Regions from separate parts of the Homo sapiens genome. Here region 2 is linked to region 1. A link means that fine-mapping ties the variant in region 1 to the expression of a gene that starts in the linked region. Tissue or cell type: thyroid. Region 1 holds a variant in brackets; the other region holds the start of a gene. All regions are shown on one strand. Distances are between the middles of the regions.

Region 1 (8,196 bases):
GCTGGCCCTGCAGAAAGAAATCTTGATGTTAAAAGATAAGTTAGAAAAGTCAAAGCGAGAACGGTAGGTTTTCATGAGCTTCTCAGTTCAGAAGATGCAAGCTGATACCCACGCCATAGATACGAATATCAGTGAAGTTACGAGCTTTTAAAACTGTTTCTCGCTCACCTTGGCAGGCATAACGAGATGGAGGAGGCAGTAGGTACAATAAAAGATAAATACGAACGAGAAAGAGCGATGCTGTTTGATGAAAACAAGAAGCTAACTGCTGAAAATGAAAAGGTAATTAATTCAAAGTACCTGAGTTAGCACTTTGTGTGGAAGTTGTAATTTAAAAAAAAATTATTTTTAATTTGTGTGGGTACATAGTAGGTATATATATTTATGGGGGAGTAGAATGTCGTCATTCTTGAGTCTTGGAAGTTTGGTTTTTTTTTTTTGAGATGGAGTCTCGCTCTGTCGCTCAGGCTGGAGTGCAGTGACGCGATCTTGGCTCACTGCAACCTCTGCCTCCCAGGTTCATGCCATTCTCCCACCTCAGCCTCCCAAGTGGCTGGGACTACAGGCGTCTGCCACCACGCCTGGCTAAGTTTTTGTATTTTTAGTAGAGACGGGTTTTCACCGTGTTAGCCAGGATGGTCTCAATCTCCTGACCTCATGATCCACCCACCTCAGCCTCCCAAAGTGCTGGGATTACAGGCATGAGCCACTGCGCCGGCCGAAGTTTGGTGTCTTTTTACAGTGCAGTAATGTGCCATATAACGATGCTTCCATCAATGATAGACTGTGTGTACAACAGGCGTCCCGTACGATCATAATACTGTACTTTACTCTACCTCTTCTGTGTTGAGATACACAGATACTTAGCATTGTGCTACAGCCGCCGGCAGCGTCCCGCACAGCAACATGGTATGCAGGCTTGGGGCCTGGAATTGACAGGCTGTACCACAGGGCCTGGTGTGCGGCAGCCGCACCGTCTAGGCTTGCGTGAGTGCATTCACGCTGTGTGTGCAAGGACACGTTTCTCAGACCGTGTTCTTGCTGTTTCACTACACGTGACTGTTTTAATTTTTGAATGGAGTCATGTGTTTGGTCTTTTAAATAGGATGTTTGTATTCAGCGAAAAGATGCCAATTGCCTGAAGTCACTAGCTCCAGCTCCATCAGTTTAGGTTTAGATTTGAATTGAAATGTGACTTAAGCTAGATACAGTGAAAAAAATCCATATCATGAACTTAGTTTGGAAAAATCTCATGACGATTAAAGAAAACTTTCAGAGTCTTCAAAAGAACTTCCAGTGTTAAATCCAGCATACTTAAAGGATGCCCGATTAACAAGTTCTGTGGTGAAATTGTTTCATTTCAGCTCTGTTCCTTTGTGGATAAACTCACAGCTCAAAATAGACAGCTGGAGGATGAGCTGCAGGATCTGGCAGCCAAGAAGGAGTCAGTGGCCCACTGGGAAGCTCAGATTGCGGAAATCATTCAGTGGTACGTGCGCGGCCCCATTAGCGGCCGTGAATCCGCTCCCTGCTCAGTCCATGGGGTCTGCCCCGCCTCTTCTGCCTGATCCTGTGCTCCACGCCAGGCCGTGCCTCTCAGGCTGGGGTGCAGGTCTCACTGCTGTTCCCCAGAACTTCTCATGTCTGGGGCAGTGGTTCTGTTGGAATAGAGGTGGAGATACGCCCCCACCAACCCACTGAAGGACTTGGGGCAAACCGTTCACACCCCTTGCGTTCTCAGAGACAGGGGAGGCAGAGCCCTCCCAAAGCGGCTGCAGAAGCAGCAGGGAGACTTGGAGCGAGCTGGGACCTGGCCCTCCGCTCCTAAGGTGTGAAGTTGTAATTAAAAAAAGAGTTTTTATTTTTAATTTTTGTGGGTGCGTAGTAGGTATATATATTTATGGAGTAATAGAATTTTTTCATTCTTGAGTCTTGGAAGTTTGGTGTCTTTTTAAACTGCAGTCATGTGCAATGTAACGACGCATCCATCAATGAGATCCCGTGTATACAACGGGTACACTGCGGGCACTCTAGCTGACGTGACACTGTGTCACTGTGTGCCGAGGAAGGCGGGAACGTCCCCTTCTTGTTTGGCTTCTCCCTGATAGCCATGCTTCGTGAGATAGAACATCTGTTCCCTCCTCCAGGGTCAGTGACGAGAAAGATGCCCGGGGTTACCTTCAAGCTCTTGCTTCCAAGATGACCGAAGAGCTCGAGGCTTTGAGGAGTTCTAGTCTGGGGTCAAGAACACTGGTAGGTTTTGTGTAATGCCTGCATTTCTATTACTGAATAATTCGCTAATGGTTTTAAGTATAAATGTGACATATAAGTACTATTTAGGGAATTACAGTGATGCAAGAGACTTCTGTGTAACCAGTTCCCCAATTTAAGGAACGCCAACATTTGCCAGCTCTCAGATCATCATGGCTTCTCTCGACAGCATTCATTCGTTTAGCAAATAATTACTGAGCACTGAGCTCCGTGGTGTCAAGTTAAGACTGGATTCTGCCCTCAGAGAGCTTGCTTTTATTAATTTCATTGGTTCATTTAGTGATGTGTGTATTTTATTTTTTTCCTCCCGCGACAGTCTCACTCTGTTGCCCAGGCTAGAGTGCAGTGGCGTGATCTCGGCTTACTGCAACCTCCGCCTCCCGGCTTCAAGTGATTCTCCTGCCTCAGCCCCCCCGAGTAGCTGGGATTACAGGCGTGTGCCGCTACACCTGGCTCATTTTTGTATTTTAGTAGAGACGGGTTTCCACCATGTTGGCCAGGCTGGTCTCAAACCCCTGACCTCAGGTGATCTGCCCGCTTCGGCCTCCCAAAGTGCTGGGATTACAGGCATGAGCCCCCACACCTGGCCTTCCTCTGTCCATTTTCTTCTCTTTACTGTTATAGATGGAAAATGAAGCATTCTCAATTGTGTTCAATGAAAGGTTTTCAGTTTGTTTTAAAAAAGAAAAAACAGCAAGATGGCATCTCTGGACTTCTTTGATACCTCTCGAAAGTTGATGTCATACATTGGGCAACTCAGTAAGAAAACAGGAGGATGATGTTAGTGAACTGGCTTATTCCACTGTTGCTTCATCCTAGGTCACTCTGTCATTCTTCCCTTATTATTTTAGTCTTTTTTTTTTTTTTTTTTTTTTAATCACAGGTAGGAATGAGTAATGACATAATTCCCAGGATGGTGAAATAGCAAAACGTTTCAAGTTATGAGAAAAAGATAACCGAACCCTATAATGTACCTTAGGTTTGTAAAAGGGTCCAGGGTCCAGTGGACCCATATAGAAATTGCATTACAGAGGCCAGGCGCAGCGGCTCATGCCTGTAATCCCAGCACTTTGGGAGGCCAAGG[G/T]GGGTGGATCACGAGAGCAGGAGTTGGAGACTAGCCTGGCCAACGTGGTGAAACCCTGTCTCTACTAAAAATACAAAAATTAGCCAGGCATGGTGGTGCGGCACCTGTAATCCCAGCTACTGGCTACTGGAGAGGCTGAGACAGGAAAATCGCTTGAACCCAAGAGGCGGAGGTCGCGGTAAGCTGAGATCACGCCATTGCACTCCAGCCTAGGCAACAAGAGCGAAACTACATCTCAAACAAAAAAAAAAAGAAAAGAAAAGAAAAGAAATTGCACTACAGAATCACTTTTATTCTTCTAAAAGATAAAGTAAATTATTTAGTTATTTTTTAGAAGATTTCTGAGGAAGAGTAAAAAAAGTCATAAAATATCAAAACTAAAACTCCTGAGGCACCTCCATAATTTAGAGTTAATATCTAAATGAGACCGTAATGGCTTAAGGTTAGACAAAGATAACTTATTTGTTAACATTAGTTTAACAAGCGGATAACTGAAAATGCATTTTTAACGCCATGACCGTGTCTCAAGGACCCGCTGTGGAAGGTGCGCCGCAGCCAGAAGCTGGACATGTCCGCGCGGCTGGAGCTGCAGTCGGCCCTGGAGGCGGAGATCCGGGCCAAGCAGCTTGTCCAGGAGGAGCTCAGGAAGGTCAAGGACGCCAACCTCACCTTGGAAAGGTACTTGGTGCCAGGGTCTGACTCCAGGTAGGAGCAGTGGCTGTGTGGCCTCGAGCCCGCCCTGAGCCTCACGGGCTCCGATGCTCCTCGCCTGGAAAATCGGGGCCACGGCGTTTGCTGGAGCCTTAGGAGGCAGCACGTCGGGTTCACCTGCAGGAGCCCCGAATAGCAGGCCGTTCTGGCACTGAGGTGGCCGCGAGGGTGCAGGGCCTTGCCTGCCGCGGGGGGGTGTGGTGCGGTGCGAGCCGTGTTTTGACGGCAGCGGGTGCTTGTGCCCCCACGCTGGGTAGCGAGACTCACACCGCTGTCTGACAGGAGCCCCTCTCACTGCTTAGTCACCTCCGTGCCGCTCCATTCACTAATTCAAGATTGTTCCTTTCAAGCTAACGTGAATATTTTAAAACAGAGGTTGAAGATGGCATTCTCACTTGAAATTTTTCCCTAACTCCAAGCAGTAACGAGAACGCCATTTTCACACAGCAGTGATTCAGTCAGTATTTGCTGAGAGTCTCCTCTTTGCAGATCTGGTTTTACGAGGATACGATAATGAACGTCAGTTTCATAAAAACCAGGCCAGCTCTGCTGTGCCATGAGGCAGGCGAGGACCTGGAAGGGACAGTGTCTCTAACAGAATTACCAAGTCCCAAATCCTGTTAGTTTGGGGCTAAAAAATTAATGGTAATAGGTTTCAGTTAAATTGACTTTCTTTATACTGGGAATTGCTGTAAGACTGTTCTGTTGTTAAATCCTGTGACCCTCCCACAGCCCAACAGGGTAGGCAGTCTTGTTACTCCCACTTACACACACTCCGCAGGTGATTTGCCCACTGTCACCCCACTGATGAGTGGACCAGCCCCCACAAACTGCATCCCTCCCGGCCAGGTGTTCCCCGTGGCAGCCTGACTTCCTCTGTCCCCTGCACGAAGTTGCTGGAATTGCAAGGCTACCCGTGCGGGTGGTGCTGGTGCTTCTTGGTGCAGCCACCATCTTGCCAGTTATGGGAAAGATATTGATGGGGCTGACGGCTGAGCGGCCTGGGCCCTGTGTCCCTGAAGAACAGAGGACTCGCCTGGGAACAAGATTAGGAAGGTCAAGAGCTCCATTAGGCCTTCATGAGACACGCCTTCCTAAGCCATGACTTTTTAAATTCCTGTTTGAATGTTTATATTTGAAATATTCGTACTGTTCATGGTGTTTGCAGTAGAAAGGCCCAGCATGAGCTACCGTGTTCTGGACAGTCCTGAGTGCTGGGGAGAAATCCCGGCTCTCTCATCCTGACCTGCCCCATACCAGCTCACAGACAACCTCTTCTCAGTGCACTTAAAGCCATTTATTTTTTATTTTAGCAAACTAAAGGATTCCGAAGCCAAAAACAGAGAATTATTAGAAGAAATGGAAATTTTGAAGAAAAAGATGGAAGAAAAATTCAGAGCAGATACTGGTAAATTAATGTTGTGCGATTCTGCATTATTTGAATATAAGTATTTTTCAAATGAATGTTTTTATTTTCTTTTCGACTTAATAGTTACTTTAGAAGCACCTACAGAATTCCAAATTCAGTATTTTCCAAAATCAGCATTTTCAAACAACATCTTCAAATATATTTTCCCCAAAGGTAGCCATTGTTTTTGGTTTATCCTTCCTTTTTTTTTGAGACAGTCTCGCTGTGTCACCCAGGCTGGAGTGCAATGGCACAATCTCGGCTCACTGCAACCTCTGCATCCTGGGTTCAAGGATTCTCCCGCCTCAGCCTCGCAAGTAGCTGGGATTGCAGGTGCACACCACCACCACCCCTGGCTAATTTTTGTATTTTTAGTAGAGATGGGGTTTTGCCACGTTGGCCAGGCTGGTCTGCAACTCCTGACCTCAGGCAATCCACCCACCTCAGCCTCCCAAAGTGCTGGAATTACAGGTGTGAGCCACCGTGCCCAGCCTATCCTTCCTTTCATCTTGAAAGCATATGGCAAATCCACACAAATCTAGGCACACATTTGTATCCCCTGATAACACAAAAGGCATCATTTTGTGCTGGAGGGGCCACCCCGGCCTCCTCTGCAGCTGCACTGTGCGCTGCCGTGGGCTGGCCAGCCACTGGGATGGTTTATTCCCTGGCATTTGCTGTCACAGAAAGTGCTGCCAGGAGTGGCTGTATGGATAGAACATTTCCTGTTTTTGTCGGTGTATTTCGGGATAGAGTTCTAGAAGTGGGATTGCCAGGGCAAAGGGCAAACATGCCTGTACACTCTTGCTGCATGCTGACGGACAGGCCTCCAGAGGCTGTGCAGTGACGTTCCTCCCACTTTGCATGAGGGGTTTCTGCCCCACAGCCTACCCACAAAGTAGGATTTCAGACTTTTGGATTTTTGCCGCTCTGAATAGGTGAGAAATAGCATCTCCGTAGAGGTTTAACTTGCATATTTCTCATAAGTAAGATTGAGCATCTTTTTATATGTTTGAGGGACTTTTGTATTTTGTGCATTATATGTTTTTATTGTTTGCCCGCTTTTAAAAATTCAGGTTGTTAGTCTTGCGGATTTCTAAAAGCCTTTTGCATTTTGGGGATTAGTGCCTTTTGTTTGTGATGTAAGTTGCAAGTATTTTTCCTAGTTTGTCTTTGCTTATCATTTATTTATTTTTTTGCCAAATAAAAGTGGTTTTGCAGCCGGTGCGGTGGCTCACGCCTGTAATCCCAACACTTCGGGAGGCTGAGGTGGGCGGATCACCTGAGGTCTGGAGTTCGAGACCAGCCTGACCAACATGGAGAAACCCCATCTCTTGTAAAAATACAAAATTAGCTGGGCGTGGTGGTGCATGCCTGTAATCCCAGCTACTCAGGAGGCTGAGGCAGGAGTATTGTTTGAACTTGAACCTCAACCCGGGAGGCAGAGGTTGCGGTGAGCCGAGATTGCACCATTGCACTCCAGCTTGGGCAACAAGAGCAAAACGCTGTCTTAAAAAAAAGTGGGGGGGGTTTTGCCATCTCTACTAAAAATACAAAAATTAGCTGGGCGTGGTGGGGCATGCCTATAGTCCCAGCTACTCAGGAGGCTGAGGCAGGAGAATCGCTTGAACCTGGGAGGCAGAGGTTGCAGTGAGCTGAGATCTCGCCACTGCACTCCAGCCTGGGTGACAGAGCCAGATTCCGTCTGTCAAGAAAAAAAAAAAAAGGTGGTTTTCAAAATTTTTTGTGTGTCAAGTTTTCAGTCTTCTTCCTTTTTTGAGTCATAAATAGGAAAATACACCTAACTCCCAGTTGTTGGAGGGATTCCCTCATGCTTCTCATACTTGTGTGGCTTCATGATTGATTGATTGATTGATTGATTGATTGATTGATTGATTCAGGGTCTTGCTCTGTTGCCCAGGCTGGAGTGCAGTAGCACGATCAGGGTTCACTGCAGCCTCAACTTTCTGGGCTCAAGTGATCCTCCCACCTCAGCCCCCTGAGTAGCTGGGACTACAGGCACGTGCCACCACACCTGGCTATTTATTTATTTATTTATTTATTTTTAGAGATGGGGTTGTGCCGTATTTCCCAGGCTGGTCTTGAACTCCTGGACTCAAGCAATCTGACTGCCGTGTCTCCCAAAGTGCTAGGATTACAGGCGTGAGCCACCGTGCCCAGCCTCATTTTTTAAATTAGAATACTGATCCATTTGAAATTTGCTCTGACATACGGTTCGAGGAGTGTATCCAGTTTTATCTTTTGCTAATGGCTAGCTGGTTGTCCAATACCAGTTATTAAGCTATTTTTCCTGCTGGTTTTATGTATGACTGTTGTCATGTACAGGATCACCATGGGCTTGGGTCTGTTTCTGGATCTTCTCCCCTGTTCCATTGTTCATGGGGAAGAACCACTTGATTCTTGTTTTTTGATATGTGTTTTTTTGTGTGTGTGACAGGGTCTCACTCTGTCACCCAGGCAGGAATGCAGTGGCACGTGCAGCCTCAATCTCCCCAGCTCAAGTGATCCTCCTGTCTCTGTCTCCCAAGTAGCTAGGACCACAGGCACATGCCACCATGCACAGCTAATTTTATTTATTTAATTTTTATGGAGATGGGGTCTCTCTGTGTTGCCCAGGCTGGTCTCAAACTCATGGCCTCAAGCAGTCCTCCGACCTTGGCCTCCCAAAGTGCTGGGATGACAGGTGTGAACCACTGTGCCT
Region 2 (8,175 bases), 42 kb after region 1:
AAAAAAAAAAAATCCAGGGTTTTTTTGGTGGTGGTGGTGGTAGTTGTTACCTGGCAAACCTATTCTACAATTTATCTGCAACAATGAGATCCACAAAGAACCTTGGAGCAGGAGTGAAGGGGATGGATATTAAGCCATCCTGCAGAGCCACTGTGTGGATAGTGTAGGGTCGGCAAAGCGGCCTGTGGACTTGAAGACAAGGCTCAGAGAGACCCACAACACCCAGGCACACGACGGATTCCAGCAGTGCTAGAACAAAAGGGCAAGGCGGAGGATGCTGGAAGCTGGGTTCACTCTAAGGAGAGAAACACAGCAGGAGCCCTCGCTGGTGCACGTGCCCCATAGGTACACAGTCCATTACCATTGTGACTGAGGAGCAGACGCGATTCTCAAACGAAACAGAAAAAACACAGTTCTAAGGTAAGGCGTTTTGCATTAGGTCGATTAAAATGAAGGTTTCTGTTCAGCACAGGACACTGCAGGCAAGTCCACAGTGAGCAGACTTGCAAAGCCTCCAGCCAAGGCAGGGGGATGGGTGAAAGACAGGAGACTCCCCCAACAAGAAAGCAGGCAAAAGGTAGAAATGGGAGGAAGGGCAAGGAAAAGGAAAATCGCAGGGAGGGACGCTCCCAACCACAGAATTACAAAGTAAGGCACTGATGTGCACGGCCTGTTACTCGGGCCTCATCTAGGCAGATGGATGAAGCTGGGAGCCAGGGGTGTGGAGGGCAACATAGCCGACGCGGGCAGGGGATGGGGGTGCTTGGGCGGCTCTGGGTGAATTCGGCCTCTGCAGGCTGGGACCCTGGGGCCACTGTCCCCTGCCCCTGCGCTGTTCCCACCGGCCAATGGATGATCAATGAATGAATTATTGAATAGATGAATGAATGGAGTATTGCCTCCTTTCAGAGCCCAAGTGCTTCCAAAGGAGATCATGAAAGTAAGGAGGCCGGCAGGGGAGGGGAGTAGGGGGAAATCCATGCCCTGGAACCCCCAGCCCAGCCTGACTCCTCTGCCCACAGGTCCCCCATCAGCTCCCAGTGCCCCCCTCACTCGGGCTGCCTGGTTGCCAAGGTTATGCGTGGGTTCTGGGGGCCGGGCCACAAGGGGCAACCGCCTCCCTCTCCCTGCCCTCCTCCTGTTTCCCGGGTGGGAGCGTCGCCATCTTGCTGTGGGTGCCCTCCCCAGTGTGTGGCAGCTTTTGGGTTAAGGCAGCTTTGGAAAACCTGAAGGAAGGAACCAAGCGGCCCTGGGGTGGAAATGAGGCCCAGGGTCCCTGACCCCGCATGGGGCAGGAATGGGCCAGGCCAAGCCCATTGAGCCATCCTCCCCACCCGCACACGCGGGGGCCCCAGGCCTGGACCCCACATCTGGAGCCGACACCCCGACCCAGCTCACCAGTGACCCTCACTCAGGAGTGACTGAGCTGGCAGGTGTGCAGGTGACAGGATGAGGACGCAGCCCAGGAGTGGCTGTGAAGGGGCTGGAAGGAAGCTTTTGCCCAGAGGCTTGGCCTGCAGGCCCCACAGTCACCCTGGAAGCTGGTGGGCTGCCGATGCAATGGGACAGTGGCCACCGAGGATACTCAACCAAGCGGGCAGGCTGTGTGCCAGTGAAGCTGTATTTACTGTCGCTGAGGTGTGAATGTCATATATTTTTCAAGTGCCACAAAAGATTGTTCTTTTTTTCCCCAACGATTACAAAGTGTAAAAACCGTTCCTTGCTCCACCCGTAGGGGCTGCATTTGGCCTGTAGCTTGCGGAACTCCACCTTAAACAAGGAAATTAGCTTCTTTCTCTGGGGCCTTATCAGAGCCTTTAATACGTGATGAAGCTCCAGGAAAGTGCAGGCTGCAGCATTTCCCAAACTTACCTACTCATGGAACCCGCTTTCCTCCCAGTTCCCATCATGTTCTTGGAGTGTTGTGTGAAGCAGTTTGAGAAAAAGGTCCCCTAGGGCAGCAGTCCCCAACCTTTTTGGCACCAGGGACCAGTTTTGTGGAAGACAGTTCTTCCATGGACTGATGGGAGTGGGGAAGGTTTCAGGATTAAGCTGTCCCATCTCAGATGTCAGCCACTTAAGGAGTGCACACCCACCCAGGCCCCTCGCTGGCGCAGTGACAATAGGGGTCCCTAGGAGAATCTGATCTGATCTGAAGGGAGGCAGAGCCAGGCAGGAGTGGGCTCGCCTCTTCCTGGGCGGCCACTTCCTAACAGGCCAGGGACCCGGATGGTGGGTAGAGGGGGGGGTGTTGGGGACACTTTCCCTAGTGTTCTAAAGATGGAGCTTTAGGCACCAGGACAAGGCAAGGCTTTGGGGGAAGGGCATGGAGCAGGCGCTTCCTGGGAAGACCACCCACTGCTGGGCATCACAAGGGCTGTGGGGACAGGGGTGCCTCCCATCCCTCCCAGGACACAGCCTGGCTGGGACCATGGGACCAAGCTCCCCTAGGTTCCCCCCCACTCCCTGCCTCCTAGAATATTCTCCAGAGGCCAAAGTCCCAGTCCTGCAGTGCCTCCATGCCGGTGGGGTCCGCCCTCAAGGCACAGCAGTCCCTGAAGGCGCTTCAGAGACTCTGTGAACCCCCAGCCCAGTGGCAGTAGCAGCCCGGCCTTACCATGTCTGAGACGGCGTGACCTTCTTGCACCAGGACTGACACCATCTGCAGGAAGAAGCTGCCTCAGCCGAGCCGGGAGCAACCCCCACCGGGGCCACACGGTCTCAGGGGTCCAGGCCCATCACCGACCCCGCCGGCGCTCCCAGGCACCTTGTCCGCCGGGAACTCAACGGCGCCGCCGGCGCACGGGGTCCGGTTCTGGCTCCAGTTGGCTGCGACGTCGAAGTCCGTGTTGGGGACCCAGAGTTTGGAGACCGCCTGGGTCAGTGCTGGGGAGGAGGCGACTGAGTGCCCGGGATGCTCTCCGGGATGCTCCCTTCTCAGGGAAGGCCACCCACCCAGAGAAGTGCGGAAGGTCCGCGCGGATCACCCGGGACGCATAGGAACCCCATCCCCGGGGGCCCGGACCCAGACCCTGGTCCCTCCCGGCCAGACTGTGGGCGCCCTGCCCGGGCGCTCTCCAACGGACTTCTACTGATACCTGCAGAGCCCGCTCAAACGCGCCCTGCAGGACGCCTGCCTAGATAGCCTCCCGGCACTGCCCCCAGTTTGCCTGGCGCTGGAGCAGAGGACAGCGTTGTTAAGGACAGTGACAACTGGGGCATGGAGGAGGATGGGGCAGCACAGACCTCTTCTCGGCCTTGGAATCAGGAAGGCTTCCCGGAGGAGTCCTACCTGGGCCGGGAAGAGCTGCGACAGAGCGCAACCCGGTATGAGAAGTAAGAAGGGGCTGGGGGCGGCAGGACCAGGTCAGGCCGGCCCTGAATGTGGTGGGTGGGGTTGTCCTGAGGGAGCCGCGAGGGGTTTAGGGAAGGGGGCGCCAGGGACACGCGCCGGCCTGGTGTGAAGGCGGAGGAGGGCTCAGTGCTCCCTTGGGGACCGGGAAGCTGAGGCGGTCTGCCGAGCCCCGCAGGCGCACACTCGCTGCTCTCGGCAGGTTCTGGGGACCGCGCCCATTTCGCAGACGGAAAAACCGCGAGGGCAGGAGCCGCCGGAGGCCGGGGCTGGCCGAGGTTCCCGGAGCCCCTCCTCTCCTCTCCCGCACCGCCCGATGCACTGGCCGCGCACTTCCGGGCTGCGCACTCGCCAGACGAGGGAGGCAGGGCCGAGTTTCACGCCCCCAACCCTCCAAAGCCCTCCCTGCCCACTCCTCGGAAGATCTTCACCCTCCAGGCCTAGAGCGACCTCGGCCCTGGGTCCTGACAGACCGCTACCGTCCGGGCCCGCACCGGTGTGGTCCCGGCTCACCGCAGAGCTGCAGCCACAGCAGGACCCGGCCCAGGACGCCCATCTCGCCTCGGCTCCTTGCACCCCACCAGGAGACTTTGCCCCACTGGACCCACGTGACCAGGCAGGTCGGGTGGGGGCACCAGGGTCGGTTACACATTTACCTCCAGACCCGCCCAGGGCCGACTCTTCAGGCCCCTGGGAGGCACCTTCTCAGCCTCCCCTTACCCGCCCCTGCAGGGCCTGAACACCTTAGGTTCTCAGGAAGAAGGGCAAAGAAGAAGGGCTTGGCGAGACTGACCTACCCTGTAAAATGGGTGTCTTGCCGGGAGGGGGAATAAACGACCTTTGAATTCACCCCTTTCTCTGTCCTGTGTGCTGCTAGGGCTGAGCTAGTCTGCTCACCATTGGAACTGGGTGTCCACTTCTCCACGCAGTGCCCCTGTCCCATGGGCTGTGGGTGGTGGTTGGATGATAGAAGGAAGATCCTGGATGGAACATGGTATGTGGATGGTATAGGAGGGTGGATTGTGGATGATGGTGGAGAGTAGTGGATGGTGAGTAGGGGACAGCTGATGGACAGCAACATTGATGGTGCATGGTGTACGGCATATGGACGCATGGCAGATGAATGGTAAATGGTTGACGGGGTGGATGGTGAGTGATAGAGGGTGGATGGGTGATGAATGGATGGATGAGGATGGTGAGTGAAAAATGAATGAATGGCCGGGCGTGGTGGCTCATGCCTGTAATCCCAGCACTTTGGGAGGGTGAGGCAGGCGGATCGCGAGGTCAGGAGATCAAGACCATCCTGGCTAACGCGGTGAAACCCCGTCTATACTAAAAATATACAAAAAAATTAACCGGGCATGGTAGAAGGCGCCTGTAGTCCCAGCTACTTGGGGGGCTGAGGCAGAACGGCGTGAACCCAGGAGGTGGAGCTTGCAGTGAGCCACGATCGTGCGCTGCACTCCAGCCTGAGCGACAGAGCGAGACTCCGTCTCAAAAAAAAAAAAAAAAAAAGGAAAAGGAATGGATGGTAATCAGGGAGTGGTGGATGGATAATGGCATAAATGGATACATGGCCGACAGGTAGATCATAAAGAGTGGGTGTTGGCGGGGCACGGTGGCTCACGCCTGTAACCGCAGCACTTTGGGAGGCCAAGGCGGGCAGATCACCTGAGGTCGGGAGTTCGAGACCAGCCTGACCAACATGGAGAAACCCCATCTCTACTAAAAATACAAAATTAGATAGGCATGGTGGCACATGCCTGTAATCCCAGCTACTTGGGAGGCTAAGGCAGGAGAATCGTTTGAACCTGGAAGGCGGAGGTTGTGGTGATCGGAGATCACGCCACTGTGCTCCAGCCTGGGCAACAAGAGTGAAACCCCATCTCAAAAAAAAAAAAGTGGGTGTTAAATGGTGGATGTTTGGTGAGTGATGAATGCTGAATGGATGGATGGTGGATGGTGAATAGATAGATGGTAAATGGATAGATGGTGGATGATGGTTGCATAAATGGTGAATTGTGGATGGAGATGGACGGTGGATAGTGAATAGATGGTGGATAGTGAATAGACAGTGGATAGTGGATAATGGGTGGATAGTAGATGGTGGATAGGATGATAAATGGATGGGTAATGGATGGTAGATAAGTAGATAATGGATAAATGGTGGATGATGGATGGTAGGTGGATGATGGTTGGTGGGTGGTGGATAATGGACAAGTGAATGGTGATGAGTAGATGGTGAATATTAAGTGGATGGATGGGCGGCAGATGGTAGATAGTGGATGATAGATGGTGGATGGTGGATGGTAAGATGAATAGTGGTTGGTGGATGGTGGGTGGTGGATGGTGGGTGGATGGAAGGATGGGTGGTGAATGAGTGAATGGTGGATGGTGAATAGGTGGATGGTGGATGGTGGATGGTGAATGGCCGATGGTGGATGTGAATGGTGATGGGTGGTGGATGAATGGATGGATGAATGGCGAATGGTGGATGGCAGATTGTGGATAAGTGGATGGTGGATGGATGGATGGTGGATGGGTGAATGGGTGGATGGATGAATGGTGGATGGTAGACAGTGGATGAGGGATGATAGATGAATGGTGGGTGGTGGATGAGTGGATGGCGAATGGGTGAATGGACATATAGATGGGTGGATGGATGGATGGTGGATGGTGGGTGAGTGAATGATGGGTGGATGGTGGATGAAGGGATGGTGGATGGTAGATGGGTGGATGTGTGAATGGGTGGATGGATGAATGGACGCTGGATGAGTGAATTGTGGATGATGGATGAGTGGATGGTGGATATGTGAATGGGTAGAGGGATGGATGGGTAGATGGATGGTGGAGAATGGATGGTGGATGAGTGAATGGTGGATGAATGGATGGTAGGTTGTGGATGGGTGGATGGTGAATGTGTGGATGGATAGATGGTGGATGGATGGATAGTGGGAGTGGATGGTGGATGGATGAATGGTGGATAGATGGATGGTGGATGTATGCATGAATGGACGGTGGATAAATGAATGGTGAATGAATGAGTGGTAGATGGATGGAAGGTGATGGTGGATGGTGAATTGGGATAGATGGGTGGTGCGTTATGAATGGTGGATGATGGATGGTGGATGGATGGAAGGTGATGGTGGATGGTGAATGGGGATAGATGGATGTTGGATGATGGATGGTGGATGGATGGAAGGTGATGGTGGATGGTGAATGGGGATGGATGGTGGATGATGGATGGTAGATGGATGGAAGGTGATGGTGGATGGTGAATGGGGATAGATGGATGGTGGATGATGGATGGGAGATGGATGGAAGGTGATGGTGGATGGTGAATGGGGATAGATGGATGTTGGATGATGGATGGTGGATGGATGGAAGGTGATGGTGGATGGTGAATGGGGATAGATGGATGTTGGATGATGGATGGTGGATGGATGGAAGGTGATGGTGGATGGTGAATGGGGATAGATGGATGGTGGATGATGGATGGTGGATGGATGGAAGGTGATGGTGGATGGTGAATGGGGATAGATGGGTGGTGGATGATGGATGGTAGATGGATGGAAGGTGATGGTGGATGGTGAATGGGGATGATGGGTGGTGTGTTATGAATGGTGGATGGTGGATGGTAGGTAGATGGAAGGTGATGGTGGATGGTGAATGGGGATAGATGGGTGGTGCGTTATGAATGGTGGATGATGGGTGGTGGGTTGATATAGTATTTTGTAGAAGGACAGTTGATCAACAGACAGATGACGGATGGTAGATGAAAGCAGATAGTTGGCTGGGCGCGGTGGCTCACGCCTGTAACCCCAGCATTTTGGGAGGCTGAGGATGGAGTATCACTTGAGGTCAGGAGTTCAAGACCAGCATGGACAACATGGTGAAACCTTGTCTCTACTAAAAATACAAAAATGAGCCAAATGTGATGGTGCACATTTGTAATCCCAACTACTTGGGAGGCTGGGGCCGAATTGCTTCAACCTGGGAGGCAGAGGTTGCAGTGAGCCGAGATTGTGCCACTCCACTCCAGCCTGGGCGACAGAGTGAGACTCTATTAAAAAAAAAAAAAAAAAAAAAAAAAAAAAGAGTAGATAGTTGATTGTGGATGGTGAATGGGTAAGTGTATGGATGGCAGCTCACAGATGGTGAATGTTATTGGTGGATGGATGGATAGAAGAGTGATTATGGAAGGATGGTTGATGGATGGTAGATGGTAGTTGAATAAAGGAGAACGAGGGAAAGGGCGGACGGTGGCAAAATGAATCATGGTTGCATAGTGGATGGTTGATGGGTGAAAGAGAAATCGTAGCTGTTGAACAGATGTGTATGTATGGATAGTTGTTGCAATGCACGGTGGGTGAGAAAAAGTTGTGGATTTTGGATGTAGATGGATGGTGGACAAGACCAAATGGTGGAGGGATGGATTGATGGTGGATGAATAATGGTGAATGAATTTTAGATGATGTGTGAATGGATAGTAGTAAGTAGAGAGACAGTAGGTAGATGGATAAGAGTACAGGAGTTACTGGATATAAATCAATGGGTGGGTGGACAGAGCATGGTGGATAAATTGTGAATGAATGTGCGCTAGGTGATGGATGGATGATTGATGGGGGTTGGGGGAATGGGTCTGCAGTGCATGCTTGGATCTGCATCATGCACGTTGGAATGGCTGGGTGGTGAGTGAATGGAGGATGGATTTGTGGGTGTTGGGAAGCAGAGAGGTAGAAAGATGAACAGCAAATGGATTGTGCATGATGTTTGGATGATTTGATGATGGGGAGATGAGTTTCTGGGAGGGTGGTGAATTG

Evidence for each region. PIP is the estimated chance that this variant, and not a neighbour inherited with it, causes the effect.
Region 2: AMN starts here. The variant in region 1 is fine-mapped to the expression of AMN in thyroid (GTEx, PIP 0.99).

What each region holds. Positions count from the first base shown.
Region 1 is chr14:102,960,339-102,968,534 of GRCh38, reverse strand. It overlaps CDC42BPB (CDC42 binding protein kinase beta), which reads left to right. Exons shown (of 37, transcript NM_006035.4): 15 at 1-63; 16 at 177-282; 17 at 1,365-1,489; 18 at 2,148-2,253; 19 at 3,885-4,033; 20 at 5,380-5,474. Among named protein-coding and RNA genes, the nearest start is that of AMN, 42 kb to the right of the region's middle. The variant G/T (reference allele first, on the strand shown) is at 3,356.
Region 2 is chr14:102,918,422-102,926,596 of GRCh38, reverse strand. AMN (amnion associated transmembrane protein) reads right to left here and starts at 3,934. Exons shown (of 12, transcript NM_030943.4): 1 at 3,866-3,934; 2 at 2,768-2,886; 3 at 2,618-2,662. The coding sequence starts at 3,908. RefSeq lists silencers at 2,149-2,347, 3,511-3,710.